Homo sapiens: one gene and its partners. The protein of the gene in region 2 interacts with the protein of the main gene of each other region in a biochemical or structural test. Each region holds a gene or a part of one and is shown on either strand. Other genes may lie near its edges. The genes, in order: AP2B1, CLINT1, AP1G1 and CLTC.

Evidence for each region.
Region 1: the proteins of CLINT1 (region 2) and AP2B1 form a complex in vitro, tested with the Homo sapiens proteins (2 studies listed by BioGRID and IntAct, with this or other methods).
Region 3: the proteins of CLINT1 (region 2) and AP1G1 form a complex in vitro, tested with the Homo sapiens proteins (2 studies listed by BioGRID).
Region 4: the proteins of CLINT1 (region 2) and CLTC form a complex in vitro, tested with the Homo sapiens proteins (2 studies listed by BioGRID).

What each region holds. Positions count from the first base shown.
Region 1 is NC_000017.11:35,590,298-35,597,324, forward strand, and holds part of AP2B1 (AP-2 complex subunit beta), read left to right. Parts: intron 1-3,710; 5' UTR 3,711-3,733; coding exon 3,734-3,770; intron 3,771-6,235; exon of another isoform or gene 6,236-6,833; intron 6,834-7,027. UniProt on the Homo sapiens protein: Component of the adaptor protein complex 2 (AP-2). Adaptor protein complexes function in protein transport via transport vesicles in different membrane traffic pathways.
Region 2 is NC_000005.10:157,786,145-157,793,171, reverse strand, and holds part of CLINT1 (clathrin interactor 1), read left to right. Parts: intron 1-1,176; coding exon 1,177-1,469; intron 1,470-2,520; coding exon of another isoform or gene 2,521-2,547; exon of another isoform or gene 2,548-2,572; intron 2,573-2,731; exon of another isoform or gene 2,732-3,604; coding exon of another isoform or gene 3,605-3,658; coding exon 3,659-3,809; intron 3,810-5,153; coding exon of another isoform or gene 5,154-5,179; coding exon 5,180-5,526; 3' UTR 5,527-7,027. UniProt on the Homo sapiens protein: Binds to membranes enriched in phosphatidylinositol 4,5-bisphosphate (PtdIns(4,5)P2). May have a role in transport via clathrin-coated vesicles from the trans-Golgi network to endosomes. Stimulates clathrin assembly.
Region 3 is NC_000016.10:71,805,813-71,812,803, reverse strand, and holds the start of AP1G1 (AP-1 complex subunit gamma-1), read left to right. Parts: upstream 1-3,969; 5' UTR 3,970-4,041; intron 4,042-6,991. UniProt on the Homo sapiens protein: Subunit of clathrin-associated adaptor protein complex 1 that plays a role in protein sorting in the late-Golgi/trans-Golgi network (TGN) and/or endosomes.
Region 4 is NC_000017.11:59,622,873-59,629,899, reverse strand, and holds part of CLTC (clathrin heavy chain 1), read right to left. Parts: intron 1-7,027. UniProt on the Homo sapiens protein: Clathrin is the major protein of the polyhedral coat of coated pits and vesicles. Two different adapter protein complexes link the clathrin lattice either to the plasma membrane or to the trans-Golgi network.

The DNA of each region.
Region 1 (7,027 bases), on a different chromosome or scaffold from region 2:
AGTGTATCTCTCATTATATGAGGTGAGAACTCATTATATGAGAGATACACTGAATCATATATATATGTGATTTTTTTTTGAGGTGAAATTCACGTACCATAAAATTAACCAGGTTAAGGCATACAGTTCAGTGGCATTTAGTACACTGACAGTGTTGTGCAACAATCATGTCTTCTGATTTGTTTTTATTTACACTATTTTCATTTTTCTTGGAGTTTCTTTTGGCTTAAGGCAAGAACCAGCTTGGCACCATGTTTCTCTGCCAATATGGTTAGGGAATATTTTGTTACTATTGTTTACAATATGGTTACTAGAGTGATATCCCTTCTCTTTAGAGCAGCAGGGACTCTTAATTTAGAATCTATCTTATAGGCTTCTAAAGATACTTGACCCTCCTCTCTTCCCTGAAATTTTGTGGGTGGGTGCATTATTTTCTAGTTAAGACAAGAACACTTAATGCTCACAGTGAACAGGATAGTAATATATTCCTTGACATTGAAATTGTTAGGGGAGATAATGAAATATGTGAGCTACTGATAAAGGTATGACTTAAGACTTAGGTTAATTTATTGTTTAATAGAATGTAGTGAAAATGCCTGTTAAGAATTTACTCATGCCTGTAATCCCAGCACTTTGGGAGGCCGAGGTGGATGGATAACTTGATGTCAGGAGTTCCAGACCAGCCTGGCTAACAAGGAAAAACCCTGTCTCTACTAAAATACAAAAATTAGCTGGGCGTGGTAGTGGGTGCCTGTAGTCCCAGCTACTCTGAAGGCTAAGGCAGGAGAATCACTTGAACCTGGGAGGCAAAGGTTGGAGTGAGCCCAAATTGAACCACTGCACTGGAGCCTGGGCCACAGTGAGATTTTGTCTCAAAAAAAAAAAAAAAAAAAAAAGAATTTAATGGGCTGGGCACGGTGATCCCAACATGTAGTCCCAGCTACTCGGGAGGCTGAGGCAGGAGGATTGCTTGAGCCCAGAAGGCAGATGTTGCAGTGAGTCCCAGCTGGGACTACAGGCATGTGCTACCATGCCCGGCTAATTTTTGTATTTTTATTAGAGACGGAGTTTCGCCACGTTCCCCAGACTGGTCTCGATCTCCTGAGCTCAAGCCATCCGCACGCCTCGTCCTCCCAAAGTGTTGGGATTACAGGCGTGAGCCACCGTGCCTGGCCAAAAAAAATTTAATATGTGTATGTATAAGAGGCTTTTCAGAGAAATTGGGTGACAAATTCTAAGGAGGTTTTGTTTTAAAATCTTAAACAAGTTTTAAAGGACATAGCATAGCATAGTAAATATCCTAGACAGATTGTAATGGATTTGAGCTATAGTCCTTCTTTGAGGCTCAAGTAATCGTTTCTGTTTACTGGTTTTTCTGTTTGTATATATACATTCATAAATAACTTCAGATTTATTCCAGGTCTTTTATGTGAAGAATTCCTTTCTTCATTTGCCCACTTCACATTTAGTTTACATTATGAATGGACTAAATGATTATAACATTCTTTGAATTTTTGCTAGAAACACATTGTAAAAACATTGCATAAGGCAAGCTTCAGTATAATTTTTAATTATAACAAGTATTAAAGGAGAAATTTCTATATTCTGTAATGATATTTGTGAGTCCTAGCTCACTTCTTTTAACAAGATCATTCTGTGAATTTCTGGTACAATCTAAAGAGCTATTAGGATCAAGACTATAAATAGTAATTAGCTGGTTGGAAAGATAGCAAATGAGTCTAATTTCCATTAAACTGTACAAGTAGCACGTTTTAGAGATCAGATTTGAACCAGAAGTTTTTCATTATTTTATGTTTATCTGGCTCTTTTTTCTTTTCTTTAATTACATTGATTTGTTTGGTGCTTAGGTCTTTTCTCCTAGATCCATATTTACTATTGTTTGCCAAATACATTATGTCATATTGACCTGATAATAATGAGCAGGTGCCAGCATGTCTTGTCCTGAAGTTGGTGATAAGTATTATTAGTGATGGTGATAAGGAAAAAGATACTCATTTTGAGTACAGAAGGAATATTATTAAAAAATATATGTATATTTATATATTTTTTTCCCCTTGAGACAAGGTCTCTGTCGCTGAGGCTGGAGTGCAGTGGTGAGATCATAGCTCCCTGTAGCCTTGATCTCCTAAGCTCAAGCGATCCACACACCTCAGCCTCCCAAGTAGCTGAGACTACAGGTACATGCCACCATGCCTGAGCCACCGCGCCTGGCCCAAATTCCTATTTATTTATTTATTTATTTGAGATGGACTTTTGCTCTGTTGCCCAGGCTGGAGTGCAGTGGCGTGATCTCGGCTTACTGCAGCTTCCGCCTCCCAGGTCCAAGCGATTCTCCTGCCTCAGCCTCCCAAGTAGCTGGGATTAAAGGCACGTGCCACCATGCCCAGCTAAATTTTGTATTTTTAGCAGAGACAGGATTTCACCATGTTGGCGAGGCTGGTCTTGAACTCCTGACCTCAAGTGATCCACCCGGCAGCCTCACAAAGTGCTGGGATTACAGGCGTGAGCTACTGTGCCTGGCCCCAAAATTTTAATATATTTAAAGAAGTCTGGTACATTGGACAAAGTCTTATAGTTTCTCAAATCAGAAAAAGTAGTCTTATTATTTAGTAAAAATGTGACCAGACTGTGCCGTTTTTGTTAGTAGAGCCATTTGTCATCTGGATTACTTCTTCTGGAAATTGGGATGGAAGAGTTAAGGTTGAGGTTGAGATCCACGTTCTTTTGTTTCAACACCAGTTTGATTCTCGTGTCTGAACGGATGTCTCAGTCTTTTGCCTTGTTTTTAACTATAAACTGGCATTATTTGGGAATACTCTTGGGCTAAATCTGGATTGTTGGAAGTAAGAAAGCCACATTTTTTTTTAAATCCAAAAATATAGTTAGATACAATGAATAAGATCTAGTATTTGATAGCACAAAAGGGTGACTGCGGTCAACAATAATTTACTGTACATTTAAAAATAACTAAAAGAATGTAATTGAATTGTTTATAATACAAAGAAAGGATAAATGCTTGAGGTGATGGATATCCCATTTACACTAATGTAATTATTATGCATTGTCTGCCTGTTATCAAAATATCTCATGTACCTATACGCACCTACTAAATACCCACAAAACTAAAAATTAAAAAAATTCCATGCATAAGTCATGGTTGCCTCTCTAGATGTTTGTTGTGAAAGAATATTGTCCTACTAATTTTGAATTTTTTTTTTCTGAAAGAGATTCTTTTTATTGAAAGTTTCATGTCATAGATCGGCAAAATTGTTTTTTCTTTTGACCTTACACTGCTTCAGAATATATGTTTTGGAGTGATTCCAGCTTGAGGCAAGGAAGTTACCAGATTTTCCTGAATGGAAAGTAATTGCAGATATATTTATAAAAAGGTCCAGCTTTAGCTCTTGAAAGCTTTGAGGAGTTACTGTGGATAAAATCACAAAGCCATAATAGGTTCATACTTTTACCCAGTTGCATTTGGCCTTTAGATTTTTGCCCCATTAGCTTGAGGAGTTACATTCTTAGTTTTTCTTGAACCATCAACGGTGGTGATAAAGGAAGATGATACTCATTTTTAGAAATTCTTAAATATAAGTGTTCCTAAAATTAATTGGATGTTCTTAAAATTAATTGGATGCCTTGTTGGATATCTATAACCTGAATGAAGGAATTCTTTTCTCTTGCTATAGGTGCACATTAAAGATCCAAAGTCATGACTGACTCCAAGTATTTCACAACCAATAAAAAAGGTAAGTATGAGAATACAATCAAATCTTTTGAAATTTTCAAAAGTTGTAGTGTAAGATTGCCCCAGGCAGAATGCTGCTGACCTCTTCCTTCAGACATACATGTAGCTGACAATCTCACTGGACATCTACTACTTCTATAGATGAATGTATTCAAGCAAGTTATTAAAGAGTAGGTTTTAAAAGAGAGGGCTGTGATGCACATTATTATGACTTGAAGGTTCTGTTTAGTGAAAGAGACTCCTCTTTGCTGTTTGAGATGATCCATTGGAGATTGGTTAAGTGTGAGGAGGACAAAAGAAGCAGCATACTTTTTCCCTTTTATTAAATAATTTTTACTTGGAAATAAACATTTTATAACAAAGAATACAATTAAAGCAATACAGATATGTATGTAAAAGGTAAAAATGAAAGTTCTCCCTTCCTGTTCCTATTCCCAAGGGAACTTGGTGTATATCCTCAAGTCTTTTTCTCTGCATATGAGTGCATATATTAATACATATGATTTAAAATTTTTTTATCTTTAATGAAAAAGCAATCTTGCAAAACAATGAATAGAAATGAGTTATTTTCATATCCGTCCATATACATCTACCATGTTCTTCGTCTAGATGTATATTTAAAACGGAATCTCTAGAGCCATCTATGGTTTTTAGGTCATAGACGGAATTACTTGAGGGACTTTGCACTTATTACTCTCATCATCTTTGTTATCAGTAATATAATGCTTGTTTTTACCTATGAGTTTGGGTCTAGGAACAAAGGATTCTTCTGGGGAAAGTCCAACCCTTCATCTTTTGTAAAATTGTTCCTAAATAAAATAGATCATTTCTAGAAATGTGGAGGGTCTTCCCATCAAAGACAAACATTTTAGCCCATCTCAGCTTATTGTGCCTGTAGCTTAGCTTGCTTTATTTGTTGCTTAGGATCAGAATTCTGTGCTTTTGTGTTCAGGAGTCCTTACATTTACCAAAGTATTCCAGACATGGCGCCAACTACCATTCTTCTTTTTCTCTTGTTGCAGTGAGTTGCTTAATTATGTCAGTTTGTTGTCTGTAGCTTTCAGTCTTGGCAACACATCAGAATTGCTCAGCCAGGGAACTTTGAAATAATACTGATGCCTGGGTCTCAACCTCAGCCTGATTTCAGTTGTCCTGGATATGGTCTGGGTGTGAGGATTTTAAAGGTTCTCCAGGTGGCCAGGCATGGTGGCTTATGCCTGTAATCCCAGCACATTGGGAGGCTGAGACAGGAGGATTGTTTGAGTGCAGGAGTTTGAGACCAGCCTGGGCAACATGGTAAGACCCTATCTCTATGAAAAAAAATTTAAAAATTAGCCCTGTACGGTGGTGCACACCTGTAGTCCCAGCTATTTGGGAGGCTGAGGTGGGAGGATCACTTGAGTGCAGGAGGTTGAGGCTGCAGTGAGTCGTGATTGTGCCGCTGTACCCCAGCCTAGGCAACAGAGAGAGACCCTGTCTCAAAAGAAAAAAATTAAAAAGAAAGCTCCCCAGATTATTTTAATGTGCAGCCATGATTGAGAACTACTGCTAGCTGCTAACAGTGCTTGGTAGATTTGATTGGGGGGAGGAGGAGGGAGAAAATATAGGAATTTAATAAAGTTGTAGAATATATGACTTTGCCTCTTTTAGTACCCCTCTTTGGTCCTGCCCAACTTTTTCCTCCTTATTTTTATTACTTACACCTCACAAAAGCCATTAGCCACTTGTCATTCAGTCTCAGCTTTTTCTGATTTTCTTTTGGAAATATGTTTATTTCTTCTTCTGTTAGCATTTTGTGTGCTTTGACGAACAAAATGTCTATAATTATATAAAGGGATACAATTACAATTAAATAGTTATAATTTTAAAACTCTCCTAATTCTTCAAACCTACTCTTGAAAAGTGTCCTGGTGACCTTTTTTTAATTCAGGCATTTGTAAAAGTTTGAGACTGCAGATTGAATCACTGCTAATAAACATCATACTTAAAAAAAATTGATAGATTGTGTTCCCTGTACTTCCTGCAACACCCACCAGAACTGCCACTGAAACATATTCTTTAAATTTATGCTTTTGGAATTGGAATAATTTCTGTTACATCCTGCTTTGATTCTATAACACCTGCTGCTGTTCACAATTCAGACTTTCTGAAACCCCGCCGTTTGTCCTTCACTGTTCCCGGAAGTGAATGAGAGGAACTCTAAGAGCTGGATTTGGCAGGATGGGACATGGTGAAGAGTCCTATGAAGAATGACTCTTTAAAGGGCCCAGCTTTTCTTGCTATGCTACTTTTGTAGCTGTTGATTAAATAGAAATTTTGGAACAATTTTTTTGCCTTATTGGCCATGGATATTGAAACGAAAAAGTGCTCTACTTCTGTGTCTTACTAATTTCATCCTTTCCACATAATGGTTTCAGGCAAATCACGTAGTGTTTGTCCCCACTATTTCTTTCTTTTTTTTTTTTTTGGAGGAGGGGAGGTCAGGTTTTAATGTCCCAGTCCTCGGGCGCCGTCATCCCGCGCCTGCCAGGCCCGGCGGCCATGTCGCTCACTCGGGTGGCGGCCAGCCTGCCTCATCAGGGCCTTCCGCGGAGGCCGCCCCGTCGCCCTCGAGCACCAGCTTCACGTCCAGCTCCAGCTGCCCGGTGTAGAAGCCCACGGCGGCGCACACCCAGAGCGGGCTGGTGGCGAGTACAGCGCCCGCAGCTGCGCCCCCTAGCGTCAGCTGCATGGGCCCCCGCAGCGCTGCCAGGCCCCGCAGGCGCTGCCCCACACCGCACACAGGCCGCCCAGCAGGAAGAAGCCATATGCTGCTTCGTGATCCATGTCACTCTGCATGAAGGAGATAACCCCGATGCCCTATGCCAGGAGGCCATTGTGGAACCAGGAGAAGAAAGCTGTCTCGTGCGCCTTTCGGAGAGGAGCCTGGCGCCTGCACGGTCCAGCTCGGACACAGGTGGCGGCGAAGCCCCGTTGTGGGGGCCGTGGCCGGGGGCGAAGGACCCCTGGGCGCCCCCGCTCCGGGGCCACTGAGGCAGCAGTAGCGACCTCCGGAAGCGGAGACTGTCCCCACTGTTTCTATGCTGGTAAATGAGATCTGGTTGAAAGGAACGACAGGAACAGTCTTGAAGGTGGAGGAAAGTCTTTTGAGGCAGTATGGTAGATGAGCTGGAGGATGTAGATGGAAAGTTGAGATGGGAGTAGTCAACCTCTTTTTCATGGACTTAGTGTTTTTTTTCCGTTTCTTTTAAACAATAT
Region 2 (7,027 bases):
GCCCAATTTTTATATTAAATTGTTAGTAGAACTTGGAGTTTCTAAGTGAATTATTTTCTCTTTCAAGGGTGCTTACATTTTAATATGGTAATAGAAGAATGTAATTTTAAAGACTTCACCTTATTATTCTCTTTTGATATTTAGCATAATGAGACATGGTATTGTAGTGGTTGGTCACTTTTTAGGCTAGACAAAATGTATTTCCAAGTTGTAAATGAACATGGAATGCAAAGGGATGGTGTTAATTAACTTGGAAGGTACATACTTACTATTTGCTTTCAGATGACGGTTTTTATGTAGCTCTTTCTTCACATTTTGCTTTTTCAACTTCCATTTATGCGTATTTATCTGTTCCTTTCAATATAAAAATTGATCAGAGGTTAATTGATAAGACTGTAGTGATTAAGAGTATGGATTTTATGCATTCAACCTTAAACTTGCAAAGTATGATAGGGTTTTGCTTGTTTCTGGCTTGGTTGTGTTTTTTAATATTACATGAGTTTTCCTCCTCTCTTTGATTGTAAATAAATGGTCCCAGTTGAAGCAGGCAATGTGCTAAGGTTATAGCCCTTGTATTGTCAGTGGAAGTATGGCCAAATAAGTGAGAAATTCTTCATTTTTTTTTAGACGGAGTCTCGCTCTGTCACCCAGGCTGGAGTGCAGTGGCACAATCTCAGCTCACTGCAACCTCCGCCTCCCGGGTTCAAGCGATTCTTGTGCCTGAGCCTCCCAAGTAGCTGGGACTACAGGTGTGTGTCACAACACCCAGCTAATTTTTTTGTATTTTTAGTAGAGATGAGGTTTCACCGTGCTAGACAGGATGGTCTCAATCTCCTGACCTTGTGATCCACCTGTCTCGGCCTCCCAAAGTCCTGGGATTACAGGCGTGAGCCACCATGCCTGGCCATTTTTTTTTATGGTAAATTCAATGTGTCACCTACAGAGCTGCCAAGAGATGGATTTTACGTTATATTTGGGAGGTTTGTTTTTTCTTTGCCACCTTGTTAACTCTCGTGTAATATTTATGAGAAAGAATACTGTCCAGATGGAGATGGTACCTGCAGATGTTAATCTGGGGGACTCAGATCAGCTCTAATTTGTTTCAGTTCATAGATTGTTACATTTGTTCTGTGCATTCCATGAAGTTTCTTACCCTTAGAGTTATTTCTGTCTTAGTAACAGCAACAAGTGGGAATGGAGACTTTGGTGACTGGAGTGCCTTCAACCAAGCCCCATCAGGCCCTGTTGCTTCCAGTGGCGAGTTCTTTGGCAGTGCCTCACAGCCAGCGGTAGAACTTGTTAGTGGCTCACAATCAGCTCTAGGCCCACCTCCTGCTGCCTCAAATTCTTCAGACCTGTTTGATCTTATGGGCTCGTCCCAGGCAACCATGACATCTTCCCAGAGTATGAATTTCTCTATGATGAGCACTAACACTGTGGGACTTGGTTTGCCTATGTCAAGATCACAGGTAAGTTGTCTGGTTCCCTTGGAATTTGTTATTTATAATCTTTGAGATGCTCTAACTCATTGAATGATAGATTAGTATAAAACAGAAAAATAAGCAAGTCCTTTTTATGTGTATGAATATGTGTCTGTGTGTGTATATATACGCATTTGCACATTTCATTTACCTCATACTCTCCCCTAGCATAGTCATTTGCATTCTGGAAGGCAAGACCTTCTCCCCCATCTTGTAGTCACTGTAAAGCCAAGCATGGTGCCTTTGCACAGAGGAGGAACATGGCAAAAATTTATTGTTACAACAAATTGGTACTTGATAGTTTTTTTAAATTGTCTTTAAGAAAAAGAAATAGGCCAGGCGCAGTGGCTCACCCCTGTAATCCCAGCACTTTCGGAGGCTGAGGTGGGTGGATCACTTGGTCAGGAGATCAAGACCATCCTGGCTAACACGGTGAAACCCAGTCTCTACTAAAAATACAAAAAATTAGCCAGGCATGGTGGCAGGCACCTGTAGTCCCTGCTACTTGGGAGGCTGAGTCAGGAGAATGGCGTGAACCCAGGAGGTGGAGCTTGCAGTGAGCTGAGATCGCGCCACTGCACTCCAGCCTGGGCGACAGAGTGATACTCCGTCTCAAAAAAAAGGAAAAGAAAAAGAAATAGAGATATTGTTTCACTTACGGCAAGTATCCACTTAGTAAAATTTCTGGTCATGTCCCTAAAGAAATATCACTCATTGGTTGTAAATAATTATTGCTAATATGGAAAATCATTCTCTCGAATGGTGAATGTTCTTCCCAATTCTGGACCTGCTCTACATTATATAAATGTTTTATAGGCTCATCTTTCAACTTTCATTTTCATAAAGAAAAACAACCAAAATGGGAGCTTCTTAATTCACTATTTTATAGTTAAATCCGAATTACCTAGTACTAGCTTAGAATTCAGACAAGTGCAGGCTTGGAAAATATGTGTCTGAATGGTACCAGGAACTTGCTATTTTTGACTCAAACTATTGAGAATATGTGTTTATGATGCTAATTACTCATTTTAATGTGTAGATTCTCGTCTTTGGGGTATTAGGATGAAGGAAAAGAAGAAAGAAGCAGAAAGGTGACTGCTCTATGTAACAGAAATAAGACCTAATGTATGAGTTAAGCATAAAGTCAGTCTACTTTATTTGCAGTCTTAATTGTAACTGTCATAATTCTTTGCATTGGTACATTTTTAATTATTCTTCCTCTTCCTGTTCCTTTTTTCTGTCCTTTTCAGTTATCCTCAATAACCACTAGGAACCTCTGCTTCTTTCTCCTGAATTTCTTCTTTCTCCTACATTGTTCCATATATTAATCAGTTCAGTTAGTGTTGCTCACTTTAGATAGTAAAAGTATACACAGAACAGCAAAATGTCAGGATATGTGAAATATAAATTGCTTTTTGACAGTTTTGCCTTATATCCTTGTATAATGTGAGACATCATATCCTGAATTCTCTGTTTTGTTTTGTTGTTTTGAAACAGAGTCTCGCTCTGTCGCCCAGGCTGGAGTGCAGTGGCACGATCTCTGCTCACTGCAGCCTCCACCTCCTTGGTTCAAAGTGATTCTCCTGCCTTAGCCTCCCAAGTAGCTGGGACTACAGGCATGTGCCACCATGCCTGGCTGATTTTGTATTTTTAGTAGAGATGGGGTTTCATCCTGTTGGCCAGTCTGGTCTTGAACTTCTGACCTCAGGTGATCTGCCCACCTCAGCCTCCCAAAGTGCTGGGATTACAGGCATAAGTCACTGCGCCTGGCCTCTGAATTCTGTTTTGAAAGAATAAATGTCCACTTGTGTATCTCCTTAAAGCTGTACTAACCTAAAATCGGTAGTTCCCCTGGGCATTTGCCAGGGATGGTGGCTTCTAGACTTTGAGTGATGGGAGAATAATTGTTAGTGTAGGTAAGTTGTTGGTTTTATCCACCTCAAACCTGATTGGGACTTCAGAGGAACCTCTTTGGGAAGCTAATGATTCAGGGTATTGAAGACATTAGCATAGAACATTAGTGGTTCTTTTTGTTTCAGAAGTTCATTGTTGTGATTAAATTGCCATCTGATAATTTTTATAGAACAGATGCTTAATTTTTAGAGCATTTTTCTATTTTCCAGCCTTTGCAAAATGTTAGCACAGTGCTGCAGAAGCCTAATCCTCTCTATAATCAGAATACAGATATGGTCCAGAAATCAGTCAGCAAAACCTTGCCCTCTACTTGGTCTGACCCCAGTGTAAACATCAGCCTAGACAACTTACTACCTGGTATGCAGCCTTCCAAACCCCAGCAGCCATCACTGAATACAATGATTCAGCAACAGAGTAAGTTACCTTAAGACGTCCCACTTCTTTGTGTACTTGCAGTCTTTTGCCTTAATGCCAGGACTACTTCAAACTATAAATAAAAATATATCACATAAATTGTAACAGTTAACCAAATGCCTGTTCACTTAAGATATTTTCACATAATATTTACTGGGTATTCCTCCTGGCACATTGAATTACTTTATATTCTATTCTTGTCCTGATAACATTTATTGTATTGTGGAGAGTTTTAAGGACCTGATCACTAAAATAAAAATTTGCTATACAGATTTTTTTTTAAATATAGGCAAATACGATGGACAAACAAAAATCATCTGATTCTGCCGTTGAGGGGTAATTGCCATTAATACATATTTCTTTCTATGTTTTCTTTTTTTTTTTTTTTTTTTTTCTGAGATGGAGTCTTGCTCTGTCGCCCAGGCTAGAGTGCAGTGGTGCAATCTCAGCTCACTGCAGCCTCCACCTCCCAGTTTTAAGCAATTCCTTGCCTCAGCCTTCCGAGTAGCTGGGACTACAGGCGTGCACCGCCACACCTGGCTAATTTTTATATTTTTAGTAGAGACAGGGTTTCACCCTGTTGTCCAGTCTGGTCTTGAACTCCTGACCTCAAGTGATCCACTCGCCTTGGCCTCCCAAAGTGCTGGGATTACAGGCGTGGGGCACCGCGCCTGGCCACTTTCCATCTTTTCTAAGCATATTTTTAATACTTGGGATCATTCTCTCTATACTGTTTCTTATTCAACATTAAGTTATCATTTTCCCTGTGTTGAATAATATTCTTAGGAAAATGATTGTTAGCTCTTGATAGTTATATTAGTGTATGATTTCCCTTGCTAATTATTTCAATTGTTTCCAGCTATTTGTTATTATAAATCAAGATTTTGTATAAATCTTCATACTTCTGTTTTTTTCTTAATAGAATGTTCTAAAAATAAGTCAAAGGATATAAACTTTTTAAAGATTTTTGTATAAATCTTCATACTTCTGATTTTTTTAATAGAATGTTCTAAAAATAGAATAAGTCAAAGGATGTAAACCTTTGAAAGATTTTTTATACACACTAGCTCTTGACAACTTGTTAAGTAGGATTTAACAATAGGTTTTGTAGGAATGTTTTTAAGTTGGCTGTTTTTCCCCAGTCTACTCTTACTGTTTCTACATCTCTGGGGAACCAGAGCCAATAGTCACTGAATATATGTCTCAAGAGGAACCAGTGCAGAGTAATTGATTTCTAATAAAATCACTGTAAAGGAATTTTATTGGGGCTAAAGAAGTATAGATAGATGGTCAAGAAGTTATTAGTTCTCTGTTCTATGAACCTAAAAATTTATTGTGGTAAAGTTCTTCTGTCTGTTTTCGTCTGGTAGATATGCAGCAGCCTATGAATGTGATGACTCAAAGTTTTGGAGCTGTGAACCTCAGTTCTCCATCGAACATGCTTCCTGTCCGGCCCCAAACTAATGCTTTGATAGGGGGACCCATGCCTATGAGCATGCCCAATGTGATGACTGGCACCATGGGAATGGCCCCTCTTGGAAATACTCCGATGATGAACCAGAGCATGATGGGCATGAACATGAACATAGGGATGTCCGCTGCTGGGATGGGCTTGACAGGCACAATGGGAATGGGCATGCCCAACATAGCCATGACTTCTGGAACTGTGCAACCCAAGCAAGATGCCTTTGCAAATTTCGCCAATTTTAGCAAATAAGAGATTGTAAAAGAAGCAGATTGAATGAAGAATTTTTAGCTGTGCAGATAGGTGATGTTGGGATGGAAAATGCTAATCAACTACCCTTTCTTTTATCAAGTAATTAAAATAAATCTACATAAAGAACCAAAAAGGCTGTTTTATAAAAGTGAAATATCCAGTATTTCAGAGGGCCAGGCAAGAGCACTTCAGATGAGGCAGTCAAAATCATTTTTTTCCAGTGAGGATAGACCACAAGTGGGTGGTGAGACCATTGAAAGCCTTTATCAACTGAAGAGTCCATTTAACAGCATAATTTGTGGGAAGACTGGAATAGGGCTGAATAAATGTGTTTGAATCTCTAATTTTATACTTTCTTTTCCTGAGGAACTTGATTTTTCTGTCCCTGGATCGCCTTGTCATAATTGGGTCTGTTCCTTTTACTACCACTCTTGAGTCCATATATGAAATCATTAAAGTTGGATGATCAGTTTTTTATAAAAATATATATTTTTGTCCAAGAAAAAAAAAAGCATACATATGTGATTATGGCTAAATCAAAGGTAACTGGAATGTATATACTTTTGCTAATGTTCCAGCAACACTGCTATTATACTATCCAAATTTTTATTGTAACAAAACCTCTTTAAGCAATTGGTGATTGCCATGGGACTTTTCCCATGTCTTCTGCTGTAATTATCCTGTGCAGAACTAGGAAGAAATTTTTTTCAGGACTGCTCTATGGTTTCCTTTAAAAGAAAAAAACTTCTGTTTGTTTTTAGCAGTCATTATTTACAATTTGCAGTGATTAACTTGGCAAGGCTTCCTTCCGTGTTTATCCCTGTAGCCATCATTTAAGTCAGGAACAGTCAGAAAAATATTTATTTTATTTTTTTTTTGGGTGTCTGCAAAGGTAAAAATCCATTAAAACCTTAAGTTAAATATAAATGTTACAACTCAATGTTTGCTTTTAGATTTTATACAGTATTTGTTTTGTTTTGGTTTTGAGTGTATATAATGCAGCATTAGCAATATGGTTCCAATAGAGGAGTTAAATATATATTGTTAAAGGAGACCTGTAGCAGTCAAAGATTTTATTGATTTAATGACAAAGGAAATTAATGAAAATGTTTTTGTTTTTCTGCTGTAATTCTGCATTAAGCTCACATGAAAATCATGATTCTAGAGTTTGGAATGCAAAATTAATTGTTTTACCCTCAAGCTGGGAATATTTTTCAAAATAAATACTATAATATAGATATCAAATTATTACCTCCCCATGTTATGTTGAAAATTTTTTTATTAAATTGATAAAACTTTATTTCCATTATATTCATAATGTTCTGTTATACATAACATTAAAATGTTCATTAAAATCAATGTTGAACTGCTTTTTCTTTCGTTCTGTTAGACATTTGAGACCATTTGGGGAAAAAATAATTATAGTTTGGGCAAAGTAATTTTTATAAATAATTTAAAATTATTTAATGACTTCTCTATTCTTTCCTATCAGACTCTACTG
Region 3 (6,991 bases), on a different chromosome or scaffold from region 2:
GACCAGCCTGGCCAACATGGAGAAACCCTGTCTCTACTAAAATATACAAAATTAGCTGGGCGTGGTGGCGCATGCCTGTAATCCCAGCTACTCAGGAGGCTGAGGCAGGAGAATTGCTTGAACCCGGGAGGTGGAGGCTGCAGTGAGCCGAGATTGTGCCATTGCACTCCAGCCTGGGCAACAAGAGTGAAACTCCGTGAAAGAAAGAAAGAAAGAAAGAGGGGCGGGGAGGGGGGAGGAAGGGAGGAAGGAAGGAAGGAAGAAAGATAGGGTCTCACTATGTTACCTGGGCTGTTCTCAAACTCCTTGGATCAAGTGATCCTCCCACCTTGGCCCCCCGAAGTGCTAGGATTACAGGTGTGAGCCACTGTGCCCAGCTGGGGCAACTGCTTTTAATTTTAGTTGCATGGAAGAAGGGTTTGGTAATTATAAATAAAGATAAATGGCCTGGGCGCGGTGGCTCACGTCTGTAATCCCAGCACTTTGGGAGGCTGAGGCGGGCAGATCATAAGGTCAAGAGATCAAGACCAGCCTGGCCAACATGATGAAACCCCGTCTGTACTAAAAATACAAAAATTAGCCGGATGTAGTGGCACGTGCCTGTAGTCCCAGCTACTCGGGAGGCTGAGGCAGGAGAACCACTTGAACTCGGGAGGTGGAGGTTGCAGCAAGCTGAGATCATGCCACTGCACTCCGGCCTGGCGACAGAGACTCTGTCTCAAAAACAAAAACAAAATAAAGAGAAATGTAAGTTAAAAAGTACTGAGAAAGGGTTTAGTTTTTAATGTTTAAAACTCTTTAACGCTCTGCACTCGATATGGTAGGAAAAAAGATCTTTCCGGGGCCGGGAGCGGTGGCTCACGCCTGTAATCCCAGTACTTTGGGAGGCCAAGGCGGGCGGATCACGAGGTCAGGAGATCAAGACCATCCTGGCTAACATGTGAAACCTCGTCTCTACTAAAAACACAAAAAACTAGCCAGGTGTGGTGGCGGGCGCCTGTAGTCCCAGCTGCTCTGGAGGCTGAGGCAGCAGAATGGCGTGAACTCAGGAGGCGGAGTTTGCAGTGAGTTGAGATCGTGCCACTGCACTCCAGCCTGGGGACAGAGTGAGACTCCGTCTCAAAAAAAAAAAAAGCTCTCTCCTCCTTAGGTAGCTGGCTTAATTTTTCTTTTGTGGTTCACAATGATACACATTTAAATTTGACCTCTAAGCATTTTTTTGTGGTGTTCCAAACGGAATACTTTAGCTAACTCTGCTTTGCAACCTGCAAACTTCTTACTTATGTGGAAACCCCAAACTAAGTTTGGCCTGTGTTCCCTGCATAGCTATACCTCAGAGGAAATTGTGTTTTGGCTTCATTCCACTATTTACTAGCCTTGTAGTCCATGGTTGCACTGTACAGTAGCAGCATGGCAGAGGATCTGAATTCTGTAAACATTCTGTTCTCTAAACCACTTGTTGGGGGTTGACTCCATCCACCCTGAGAGTGTAGGTATGTGTGTAGGTAGGTAGGTAGGTAGGTGGGTGGGTAGGTAGGGGTGGTGGAAGATTGTGGTACCCTATGCTAATTTATAAAATGGCACTCTGGCCTGGCATGGTGGCTCATGCCTGTAATCCCAGCACTTTGGGAGGCCGAGGTGGGTGAATCACCTGAGGTCAGGAGTTCGAGACCAGCTTGGGTAACATGGTGAAACCCCGTTTCTACTAAAAATACAAAAAATTAGCTGGGCGTGGTGGCATGCGCCTGTAGTCCCAGCTACTTGGGAGACTGAGGCAGGACAATCACTTGAACCTGGGAGGCGGAGGCTGCAGTGAGCCAAGATCACGCCATTGCACTCCAGCTCGGGCAACAAGAGTGAAACTCTGTCTCAAAAAAAAAGGCACTCTATAGCTCTGTAGCAGAACCCCAGTGGAGGAGGGGAGAGGATGTGTCTTTTAGCCAAGTTAGTTTCTTGGAGCCTCTTTTTCCTTATTTGTAAAACTAAGTTACTTATGCTTGCCTAGCCTGACTCAGGAGGTTGTCCAGAGGGTCAGATTAGATTATACACATGAAAGTGCCTTATGAACAATGTGATATCAATATTTAATAATACAAATGATAATTATTATCGCACCCATGGCCTCCTTTCTTTCCAGCCACTTGGCATGCCCCAGTAGTTCAGGGACAAAATTGTACAGATGGGCCTACTTGGTTCAATTTTTTTTTGTTTTTGTGAGACAGGGTCTCACTCTGTCGCCCAGACTCGGCTATCTGCAACCTCTGCCTCCCAGGTTCAAGCGATTCTCCTGTCTCAGCCTTCCGAGTAGCTGGGATTACAGGTGCCCACCACCATGCCCGGCTAATTTTGTATTTTTAGTGGAGATGGAGTTTCACCATGTTGGCCAGTCTGGTCTCGAACTCCTGACCTCAGGTGATCCGCCCACCCCGGCCTCCTAAAGTACTGGGATTACATGCGTCAGCCACTGTGCCCGGCCTACTTAGAGCAATTTTTGTTAAGTGTTTTGAAATCCCTGCATGAAAATGACTAAGGAAAAAAGTGCAACCTTCTCTCTATGACACCCAAATCCTAAACTCAAGATTTGTGGTTAGTTCTGGCCAGGCCGGTGGCTCACACCTGTCATCTCCACACTTTGGGAGGCCGACGCAGGCAGATCACCTGAGGTCAGGAGTTCAAGACCAGCCTGGCCAACATGGCGAAACCCTCTCTCTACTAAAAATGCAAATATTAGACGGCCGTGGTGGCGGGAGCCTGTAATCCCAGCTACTTGCGAGGCTGAAGCACGAGAAATTGCTTGACCCCGGGAGGCAAGGTTGTAGTGAGCCGGGATCCCGCCACTGCACTCCAGCCTGGGCAACAGAGCGAGACTTTGTCTCAAAAAAAAAAAAAAAATTTTTTTTGTGTGGTTGGTTCTGTTCTCTTTGGCACCCAGCCTGCTGCTGTGTTGTATTGTACTTTGTTGCCAATCTAGCAGAAGGATTTTAGTCTAGGTAGGTCACCTTTCCTTTAAACAGGCCAAGATATCAGGCCCTCTTTACATTCACATGGAAAAGACTCACGTCATATGTTAGTAATTATTTATCAGGTTAGGAACTGTCTGGTTAGACTTTCTTTGGCCCTGGTTATTAATTCATGGAGTCATAGACCGAAAGCCCATTCTGTAAGGGTTTCAGCTAACATGAGTCCAAGTCTTCTTTCTACATATGAGGAAATTGAATCCCTGGAGAGTTTAAGTGACTTGAGCAGTGCAAGCACCGCGGTACCGGGCGTGGAATCCATTCTTTTCAGTCATCCTCTTAACTCTTCATAAAATATGTTGCAAAGACACCATAAAACCATAGAATACCACCTGGAGCATGCTCCTTAAGTTATAAAGAAAGCAAAAATCTTAAAGGAGACAGCAAAGAGTTCGGGATTCCCGTGGACGAAGACCTTTTCAGCCCTGCTGTCTTCTCCGCCCCCACCTGTCTCGCTTGCTCTCACTTCCTGGGCTACCTGACTTAGCTCCGCCCCCTCCAGGTGGCTCCACCGCTTCCTGGTAGCCCAGCTCCACCCCCCCTACCCCCCCACCCCCCTACCCCCCACCCCCCTACCCCCTCACCAAGCGGAACCAATGTCCGTCCGCTACGGGGTAGGCCGGATCTTTCTCGCTCAGACTCATCGCAGCGGTGACTCGGCAGCAGCGTCTCGCGTCATCAGTGACAGCCCCGATCCTTGCTACGTTTGCGTCGCTCTGCCAGGAGCAGTCGCCTCCTCCTTGGCAAATAGTCCTCGGCAGGGTCCGAGTTCTTGGATAATTCGAGAGAAAAGGCACGATAAGTTGCAGTACGAGGACACGGAAACGACCAGGAGAGGAGGACAGGGAGCGAAGTTTCCTCAATAGTGTGTGAAGTTAGTTAAAAACTCCCTCCTTCCTCAGGATCCCTCCGCCTGCGGTAGCGGTGGTGAGGCCGAGGGAGCCGCCATTTTGGATGTTCGGTTCCTGCTGCCACTGCTGCCGCCGCCCCCGGAGCTGCTGGTTTCATTCGAGGTTTCGGGCCGGTGAGTGTCACTCCCGGCGCTGAGAGCATATTGCTGCTTTTGCCCCGCCGCTGCCGCGGGCGCTCGACCGGAAGCTTCCTTTCAGTTTCAGGGGTCCAGTCCCAGGCTGTGGGTGTTGAGAAGAGAAGACAGAGAAGCTGGGCCAGGAGAGGCCGGGAGCCCCAGGGGCTGCTCCGACTTCTGGAGGGCCGACCCCGAGGCCTCGGACCGGGAGGTTCCGCGCGCCGCGGCGTTCCGTGTTGTGGCGTTGCCCCGCCGGTACGGGCCTCCTTGAACCCTTGACTTTCTCAGGCTGCGATCTTTGAGGGCTCATTCAGGGAGCCTGGGGTTTAGCGGGGCGGGCCCCACCCCCGCGTGTCTTCTCTGAGCCACGTATCAGCGTTCTTGTGTCTTGTACCCGTGTCAGGTCTGTCAGATAACTCCCAGCATATCCAAATGCCCAGTTAATCGCTGCCTGCCCCTGCAGTGCCGTCCTCTCGGAACCGGACATCGGCCTCGCCTCTCTCTAACCTTCCGACCAACTTCTTTCCCAATTTTTCGTGTGTGTGTGTATATGTTGTTGTTTTGTTTTTTTCAACCTACCTGCGAGTATACTGTTTACCCTTTTCTCAGCTCCTGGCCCTGCGGACGTCAGCGTCTAATAATTCTCCCGGTCTTCCTGATTGCCTGAAAGAGTCGGGACGGTTCGGTTGATTGTGTTTCCCGGTTAGGACTCGGTGTAGGAGATCCATCGAACCACTCGCTCAGGGTAATGTTTATGAAGCAGATTATGTTTATGAAGCAGATTAAATGGCTTTTGGGAGGCAAGAGCTGTCAAATGTTTTCTCATATGTGGATTCCCTCCCTGTGCTGAATACTTAGCTTTTTGGTGCTTACTGACACTTGTGTGGTATTTTTTTTTCTCCCCTATTATATATCCCTGAGCACGGAAATCTGTCCATGGAGAAAAATATTAATCTGAGGTAGGTAGAAAGGAGAGTTGGGCTGCTTTACAGTGATTAGTTAACAGAAGGGAGGAGTTAGTGCTTTCTTAGTGACCTTAACTTTGAAGTGTTTGTACAGTAATGATCTTTGCTGACTGATTCTAAAAAATACTTGTAATGATTTCATGTATTGGGTTTTTCTGGGGATAGCTGAATTTTAAATATTCACTTCCACCGTTCCCTAGAATACTTGTCAAATACCTAACTTGTCACACACCCTAACTTTCACGTTTGAAAAATATGAACCCTCTAAGTACTCGTAATCTCGTCACTTTTATTCTAAAGGCATGTTTGCAGTCTAGCATGCTTGAATAAAAAGTATGTCTTTATTTTTATTTATTTATTTTTTGAGACGAAGTCTCCCTCTGTCTCCAGGCTGGAGTGCAGTGGCACGGTCTCGGCTCACTGCAACCTACGCCTCCCGGGTTCAAGCAGTTCTCCTGCCTCAGCCTCCCAAGTAGCTGGGACTACAGGCACACGCCGCCACGCCCGGCTAATTTTTTGTTGTTGTATTTTAGTAGAGATGGGGTTTCATCATGTTGCCCAGGCAGATCTCGAACTCCTGAGCTCAGGTAATCCGCCCGCCTCGGCCTCCCAAAGTGCTAGGATTACAGGCGTGAGCCACCGTGCCTGGCAAAAAGTATTTCACAGTTATTCACTGATACATTTCCTACGTTTCAAGTTAGGCGAGTGTGATTGAATCACCCTTATTTCATCTCAGCCTGGGTTTTCACATCTGCAAAAGAGAAATTAACTTATTTGAGATCACAGTCTAGTGGTTGAAGTTTAAATTTATAACTTGAATTGAGTCAAGCTTTTTAATATTGCTAAGCCACTTATAGATGCATTATTATTATCAGGTTATTGAAATGAGATTGTAGATAAATTCCTCTATAGGTCATATGATGTCTCAGAAGAAAACAATATTTTCAGTTTAAATACTCAGTGATCTTGTTATTTAAGCAGATTTTTCAAAAATATATTAGTTACTATTAGATACGTGAGTTCTGTATTACCCTGAAGCAATGGAATTTTCTCTTTTGGTTTAAAGGAACTGTCAAACACTGAACACCTATGTAATGCTCACTCATTTAGTAAGTATGCCCTCGCAGTTACTACTGAAATGTTCCATTTCTGACTTAGACTTTTCAAGTAAGGTGTTAGAAGAGCTATCACATAGATGTTAGTTAACTCAGTGTTTTTCATGCTTTAATATATTGGTATTTAAATGTCATTCAGGCGGGCGCTCAGTGGCTCATGCTTGTAATCCCAACACTTTGGGAGGTGGAAGGTGGATCCCTTGAGCCCAGGAGTTGGAGGCCAGCCTGGGCAACCTAATGAGACTCCGTCTCTACCAAAATATTTAAAAATATTAAACTTTTAAAAATTCATTCTTAGATAGTTTGCATTCACTGTAGAAAGGGTCCTTTTGCCTTAACAAATTCCTAGCAAAGTGTTGTTTAGTGCACCATTGATCAGTGCATATTTGAATGTCTGCTTTGCGTTTAGGAAACCTCCGTTTTCTTTTGGGGGCAGTTGCTTGTTCTTTGGTCTGACCTCTGTCATTGATAGCAGTTCTAGATTTGAGGGCAGATTTTAGAGTGAAACTTTAAAGTACAGAATTTGCCAGGAATGCCTTGGTGATATTTCACCCCAGTGTTTATTTAAAAAAGGAGTTTTAAAAATCAGTGGTATGCAAACAAAACCAACTTCTTTATGATTTATAAAAACTCTTTTTTTTTTTTTTTATTATTTTTATTGTTTGAGACAGGGTCTCACTCTGTTGCCCAGGCTGGAGTGCAGTGGTCTCAGCTCACTGCAGCCTGGACCTCCTGGACTCAAGCGATCCTCCTGCCTCAGCCCTCCACGTAGCTGGGACTACAGGCGTGTGCTACCACGCAGGGCTAATTTTTGTATTTTTTGTATAGATAGTGTTTTGTCATGTTGCCCAGGCTGGGCTCAAGCAA
Region 4 (7,027 bases), on a different chromosome or scaffold from region 2:
GCAGTTTTGTAACATCAAATCTATTTGCGTTATCAGGAGAGTTGTTTTTCTCTTATCTTTCTATGTAAATTATGATCTCTAGGCTGGGTGTGGTGGCTCATGCCTGTAATCCCAGCACTTTGGGAGGCCAAAGCAGGCGGATCACAAGGTCAGGAGTTCAACACCAACCTGGACAACATGGTGAAATCCCATCTGTACTAAAATTACAAAAATCAGCCAGGCATGGTGGCGGGCACCTGTAATCCCAGCTACTTGGGAGGCTTAGGCAGAAGAACCGCTTGAACCCGGGAGGCAGAAGTTGCAGTGAGCCAAGATCATGCCACTGTACTCCAGCCTGGGCGACAGAGCAAGACTCCATCTCAAAAAAAAAAAAAAAAAAAATTATGATCTCTAGAAACATGCCCGAATGGACTGCTTTTCACGGGATATTTAAATCATCTGCTTATAACATCCAACAGTTCCAACTGTGAGGCCATACACAGGAGAATTTTAGATGTGTAAAATTTGTCTCTCACTAATCCAGTTGATTTCAAGCCTACAGCAGCCTTTGCCAAACAGCATTCTGGTGCTCAGAACAGAAGCAACTGTGAGAGGACACAATACTATGGAGATTCAGTAAGGCTTTTAATAAGGAGACTCTTTCCTGAGGATATCTGTGGTAAAATAAAGAAACCTGCCTTAGATTTTCATAGTTCAATATGACCAAATATAGAATATTGCAGAGACTGGAGAAAGAGATGGGTTTTTGTAAACCATGTTCTCTCTACACGTTTTTCCCCCTTATTATTCATCTTTAAATAATGAGATCTATCCAAAGTCAGCTGTTTGCCAAGCAGAGCATATATACTGACAGTCTTTAGCTTCAGTCTGTCCACTTTGGTGGTTTTTTTTAAGCCACCTTTCTCAGATGAGCAGCTAATCAGAAATAAATGCAAGTTGGCCAGGCACGATGGCTCACGCCTGTAATCCCAGCACTTTGGGAAGCTGAGGAGGGTAGATTATTTGAGGTCAGGAGTTTGAGACCAGCCTGGCCAACATGGTGAAACCCCATCTCTACTAAAAATACAAAAAAAATTCGCCAGGCCTGGTGGCGGGCCCCTGTAGTCCCAGCTACTCAGGAGGCTGAGGCAGGAGAATTGCTTGAACCTGGGAGGCGGAAGTTGCAGTGAACCAAGATTGCACCACCGTACTCCAGCCTGGGCAACAGAGTCAACTCCCAATCCAATTCTCGTTTTTTCGTCTTCTATGACTCCCAGTTTCAACCTAGGGTCATGAAAAACTGTCATCCCTGAGACCCCCAGTGTGCATCACTGAGGAACTCCAGAAATCGACGGATGCAGAAAATGAGAAATTAGAGAGTCTGGTGTAACTTCAAGATCTTGGCTTCAATAACTGGGTAGATGGTAGTTTTTCTCCTTTAGTACGGCACATATATTCAACTCAAGTGGACAAAGGGAAACTCTTCCAGGGTGGAGGGGAAGAACTAATATTCGAGTGCCTGTAAGGGGTTAAGGGGCTAAATATTATACTACAAATACAAAAACATACTGTAGTCTAACTTTAAAATTGCCAGGAAATATTGTTTTAATAAATGAGGAAGTTGAGACAAGTTGAAAACCTGACATAATCAATAGATAAGCCCAGATTAAACATCTGAGACATTTTCCAGAATAGCACACTGCAGAGTTTTTTAATGTGACAAAATATGGCTTTAATGGATCTGGTTCCTATTCTTTCAGCAATAATCTTTAAAACCGTCTTACTTCAGAACTTGAAGAAAATCCTTATTTACCTAAGGATTAGGAACAAGAAGTATTAACAGTACTGGCAGTCTGCCTCCAAAGCACAACCCTACAAGTCTGTAACCATTTTCCTTTCTACCATGATGCTACTCAAAATGAGCAAATATATTCCATTGTCACCTTCATTTCCTATCCCTTTCATGCACAACTGCCTTCGTTGAGTTCAAGCTTCTATTTCTTGGCATAAACACAAAAACATGAATTTACAGTAAAATAGAAAGCAGAAGTTTCCTCCTTTCACAAGTGGCTTCAGACTGGAACACACTCATTCTTTTCAGTAAGAAAAAGTCTATAGAAAAGTGTGACAAGTTCAGTCTTATGAGAGGGATGCAGACAATCCTGGTTACAAGTTAACCGGATCCCAATCATCCTGCACAATTTTCCAATAGGAAACAGGATAAAGTCCTTAAAAAAGATACAGCTAAATAATCATTCAAGGCATAAAGTCAGATGTTAGTTTGCTGTCTCCTACTTTTCTCATAATATAAAAAATATTTCACGATAAACAAACGACAGTACTACTAGAATCAAAGAACATCACAGCATAGATATAAACAATTGTGGTACATTTTGCAATTCAAATGATACAGACCATTTACCAAATGAGGCAATGAGCCAAATGAAAGAATAAATATTAAAAGTCTGACTGCTCACTAGCTGTGTGACTCTAAAAGTTACCTACTATGAACTTCAGTTGCCCAATCTCTACAATAAGGCTAATCTGACCTAAGCACAAGGGTTCTCTTGCTAATTAAATGAGATAATAAACATTAAATATTTAATACAGTTCTTGGCACGTAATAGGTGCTCAAACAACTATAATGGCCCATGTATTTTGATTTTATGGATTAGATTACAGGACAATTAAGATTTGAATAGTTACTGCCTCAAAAATAGGACAAGGCTTGGTGTCTCACACTTGTAATTTCAGCACTTTGGGAGGCTGTGGCAGGTGGACTGCTTGAGCCCGGGATTTTGAGACCATCCTGGGAAACATGGCAAAACCCCGACTCTACAAAAAAAATACAAAAATTAGCCGGGTTTGGTGGCGCACGCCTGTAGTCCCAGCTATTTAGGGAGCAGAGGTGGGAGGATTACCTAAGCCCAGGGAGGTCAAGGCTGCAGTGAGCCTTGATCATGCCACTGCACTCCAGCCTGGGCAACAGAGTGAGACCCTGTCCCCACCCCCCAAAAAAAGTAGGACAAAAATATCTTAAATTATGTCTTAATTTAAGGAGATAATACAAAAGAAGAGACTCACAAAAGTCTGACAGATGGGTTTTGCATAACACATTTAGGTCCAAGCTTTCAGCCATCTTTTGAGTTAAGAGCATTAGCCATAGGCACTTAACCAAGAAGCAAAGACAAGACACCCAGAGCTGTAAACTTTGCTGTGGCTCAGAAGACAGGTTTATTTCATGAAGTAGTTTTGGCATGGCATATAGTGCATGAACTTAGAGAAACAGCCTCATTCTAATATACAGGACTAAAATATCAGCCATGAACCTACTGCTCATCTAAGTGAGAAGATTCACTTCAACACTACCACCCTAAAAAAGGACACATACAACACATACAATAACTCTAACAATCGCCTGACCGGCATTCCATATGGGTATTTTATCCGATATGATTCATTAAGTTTTTTTTTCAAATATGTCTGTTCAAGGAACCCTAATTTAAAATGTACCAGTGGCACACAATGAGACTCGTGGAACATAATAAAAGATTTATTTAAAAGTTTCTTTTTGGGGGGCAGTTTCAGAGTGTAATCAACTTTGTATCATATCAATATTTGTATTAAACTGTGCACAATATCAAATGTTCGAACACATAAAAGATCCACAATCAAGTAGACAACATCAATGGTTGGAATAACAAGTGTACAGCCTTTGCCAACTCATCAATGGAAGCATGAATGCAAGGTGTAGTCCATCTTGTTTACCACCTTGTCCCTAGAGTCTAACACAGTTCCTCATCTGCAGTAAGTACTCAAATCTTAGGTAAATGTGTTAACCCCAAATACTTATACACCATAAAACACTGGATCTGTAAATGAATATTGTGTCATTGGTTGAGATACCTGAATAAAATGTACTGGACAAAAATTATTTAGCCAATAATTAATGCTCCTAAAATGCTACGTAAAGTACTTTCACATACATGATCTCAGATCCTCATAATAACTTTGTGAGATAAGTATGCCCATTTCCCAGAGAAAAAAAAGCAAGAGGTTAGACTTAACCTGTGTTGTCCAATATGGTAACCACAAGTCACAACCTACATACCATAATGAGCACTTGAAATGTGGTTACCGTAATTTTAAAGTAATTAAAATTAAATAATAACCAGTAAGTGATTCAATTACTGGAAAACTTAAGTATGTTTGGGATCACTGAAGTATTGCATATCTGCTTTCCTTTTTCTTCATTTTTGTTTGTTTAATATAGAGACGAGGTCTTAACTCTGTTACCCAGGCTGGTCTTGAATTCCTGGGCTCAAACAATGCTCCTACCTTGGCTCACAAAGTGCTGAGTTTACAGGCATGAGCCACTACCCCCAGCCCCAAATCTGCCTTTCTAACTGTAAATTTTATGAACTCTAAATACGGACCAGGATTTCCAAAGAAAATAGGGTCTGAATTGATATATGCTCTAAGTACAAAATATACATAGCCGGGCACGGTGGCTCACACCTGTAATCCTAACACTTCGGGAGGCCGAGGCAGGCATTTCACGAGGTCAAGAGATTGAGACCATCCTGACCAACATGGTGAAACCCCATCTTTACTAAAAATACCAAAAAATAAAAATAAAAAAAAAATAGCTGGGCGTGGTAGCACGCGCCTGTAGTCCCAGCGACTCGGGAGGCAGAGGCAGAAGAATCACTTGAACCTGGAAGGCGGAGGTTGCAATGAGCCGAGATCCACCATTGCACTCCAGCCTGGCGACAGAGTGAGACTTTGTCTCAAAAAAAAAGAAAAAAAAACCACACACACTAGATTTAGAAAATTTAGTATGAAAAAGAATGTAAGGTATCTCATTAGTAAATTTTATACTGATTACATATTGAAATAATATTTTGCATATCCCAAGTTAAATAAAATATATTAAATTTAATTTTATCTGGGCATGGCATGGTGACTCACGCCTGTAATCCCAGCACTTTGGGAGGCCAAGGCGAGCAGATCACTTGAGCCCAATAATTTGAGACCAGCCTGAGCAATATAGCAAGACTCTGTCTCTACCAAAAAAACCCAAAATTAATTAATTTTATGTTTTTTCACTTTTAATATGGCTGCTAGAAAACTTAAAAAATTATTTATATGAGGCCAGGAGCAGCAGCTCATGCCTATAATCCCAGCACTTTGGGAGGTCGAGGTGGGCAGATCATTTGAAGTCAGGAGTTGAAGACCAGCCTGGCCAACATGGTAAAACCCCATCTCTACTAAAAATGGAAAAATTAGCCAGGCATGGTGGCAGACACCTAAAATCCCAGCTACTTGGGAGGCTGAGGCAGGAGAATCACTTGAACCTGGCAGGTGGAGGTTGCTGTGAGCCGAGATCGCACCACTGCACACTAGTCTAGGTGACAGAGGACAGAGTGAGACTCTGTCTCAAAAAAAAAAAAAAAAAAAAAAAAAGTATGTGGCTCATATTATTTTTCTATTGGACAGCATTTGTTTCAACAACCCCTAAAGCCCTCCCTGTTCTGTCTACTATACCACATTGTTAATCTATAAACAAGTAGAGAGAACTCACCTCTCTGGGCCTAAGTCCAACAGACAAAAAGCACTCTAGGATACTGTATAACTTCTTTTTTTAAGGTCAATTATCCAATTTCTTTGAAATATTTTGTGTCAGAAGACTCAGGTACACATCCCATTCGGACAGCATTCCCACTACTTTATGAGTCTCACTTTTTAGAAAGGTGTCTGGGGGGATTGAGTGAAGATCTGAAAGTACCTAGCCAAATTTACAGCACATAATAAGGTCTCAAGAAGTCTGCTGCTAGTCATTGTTCATCACCACCACTTTCCAAGACAGACAGTATTCAGTTAAAACTTTTGAACAATGAGTGTTTTAATTTTAGCTAACGAAATATTCTAAATACATAAACATGAGTGGTGAGATAAATCTTCAAACTTACAAAACACATCAGCATGGCCTATAATTGTGCAGTCCAATGTAGGAGTCAATTGTCACATGTGGCTATTTACATTTAAATTAAAAAGAAATTAAAGCAAAAATTTAGTTTTTCAGTCACATCAGCCACATTTCAAGTGCTCAATATCCCTATGTAGCTGGTAGACAGTTCCATCATTGAAGAAAGTTCTACTGGACAATAACTCAAAGAGAAAAAGCCACAACGGTAACAATGACAGGGAAAACACCTTGTTAAATATAATTTGAATAACATATAAACATATGTATGGAAAAAACAATTTTGCAAAGAAGCTGAGGATTCGATATAAATGGAATCTTTTAAAAGCAAGGTACAAATTCCAATTATGGTCAGAAACAATTGTTCAAGAGCAACTACCATGGTTCCTGAAATGTGAATTTTCCTAAATACTCAAATGAAAATGATTGTGTTCTACATACACACCATTCTGTGTCTTATTTCCTAATCAGAGTGAAAGCACTTTCACTAAAATTAACCACACACTTTAAGCTGGGTAAACTGACCATCAAGAAAATTCTGAAGAATATGATACATTTTAAACTTAGAAGCTATTCCCAGGAGACTGCCGCATAATTCCAGGAAGTCTACCTCTTCCAGAGAGTACAACTAAGCATGTAGTAAATCCCAGTACTTAGCATTGCTTTCTATTCACAATCCGAACTAACTATAGCAAGAACCCCTAACATTTGACTCAACAACACATTCCATGCCTGCATCTATGGATCAAAGGGGAAAGAACAGGGTAGGGAGATTTTTAATTGAAGACCCAAAGAATCTAGGAATACAATGGAATGTGTCAAGTGGCCTAAAGATACTTAATGTGCCAGAAAATTGAAAATCACCAAAAAATTAAGAATCACAGGCAATATTTTATATATGTAGCCTAGGATTTTTATAGAATCTTCAATTCCAACAGTATCTTGCTCAAATAGGCACTCATTTATTAACTGCTATCAGTCTAAACAGTCTAGGAAAAGAGAAATCTTCATATATTCACATTCATTTGCTGTAGGTCCAAGCTTTGATGACAAGAGATCCTT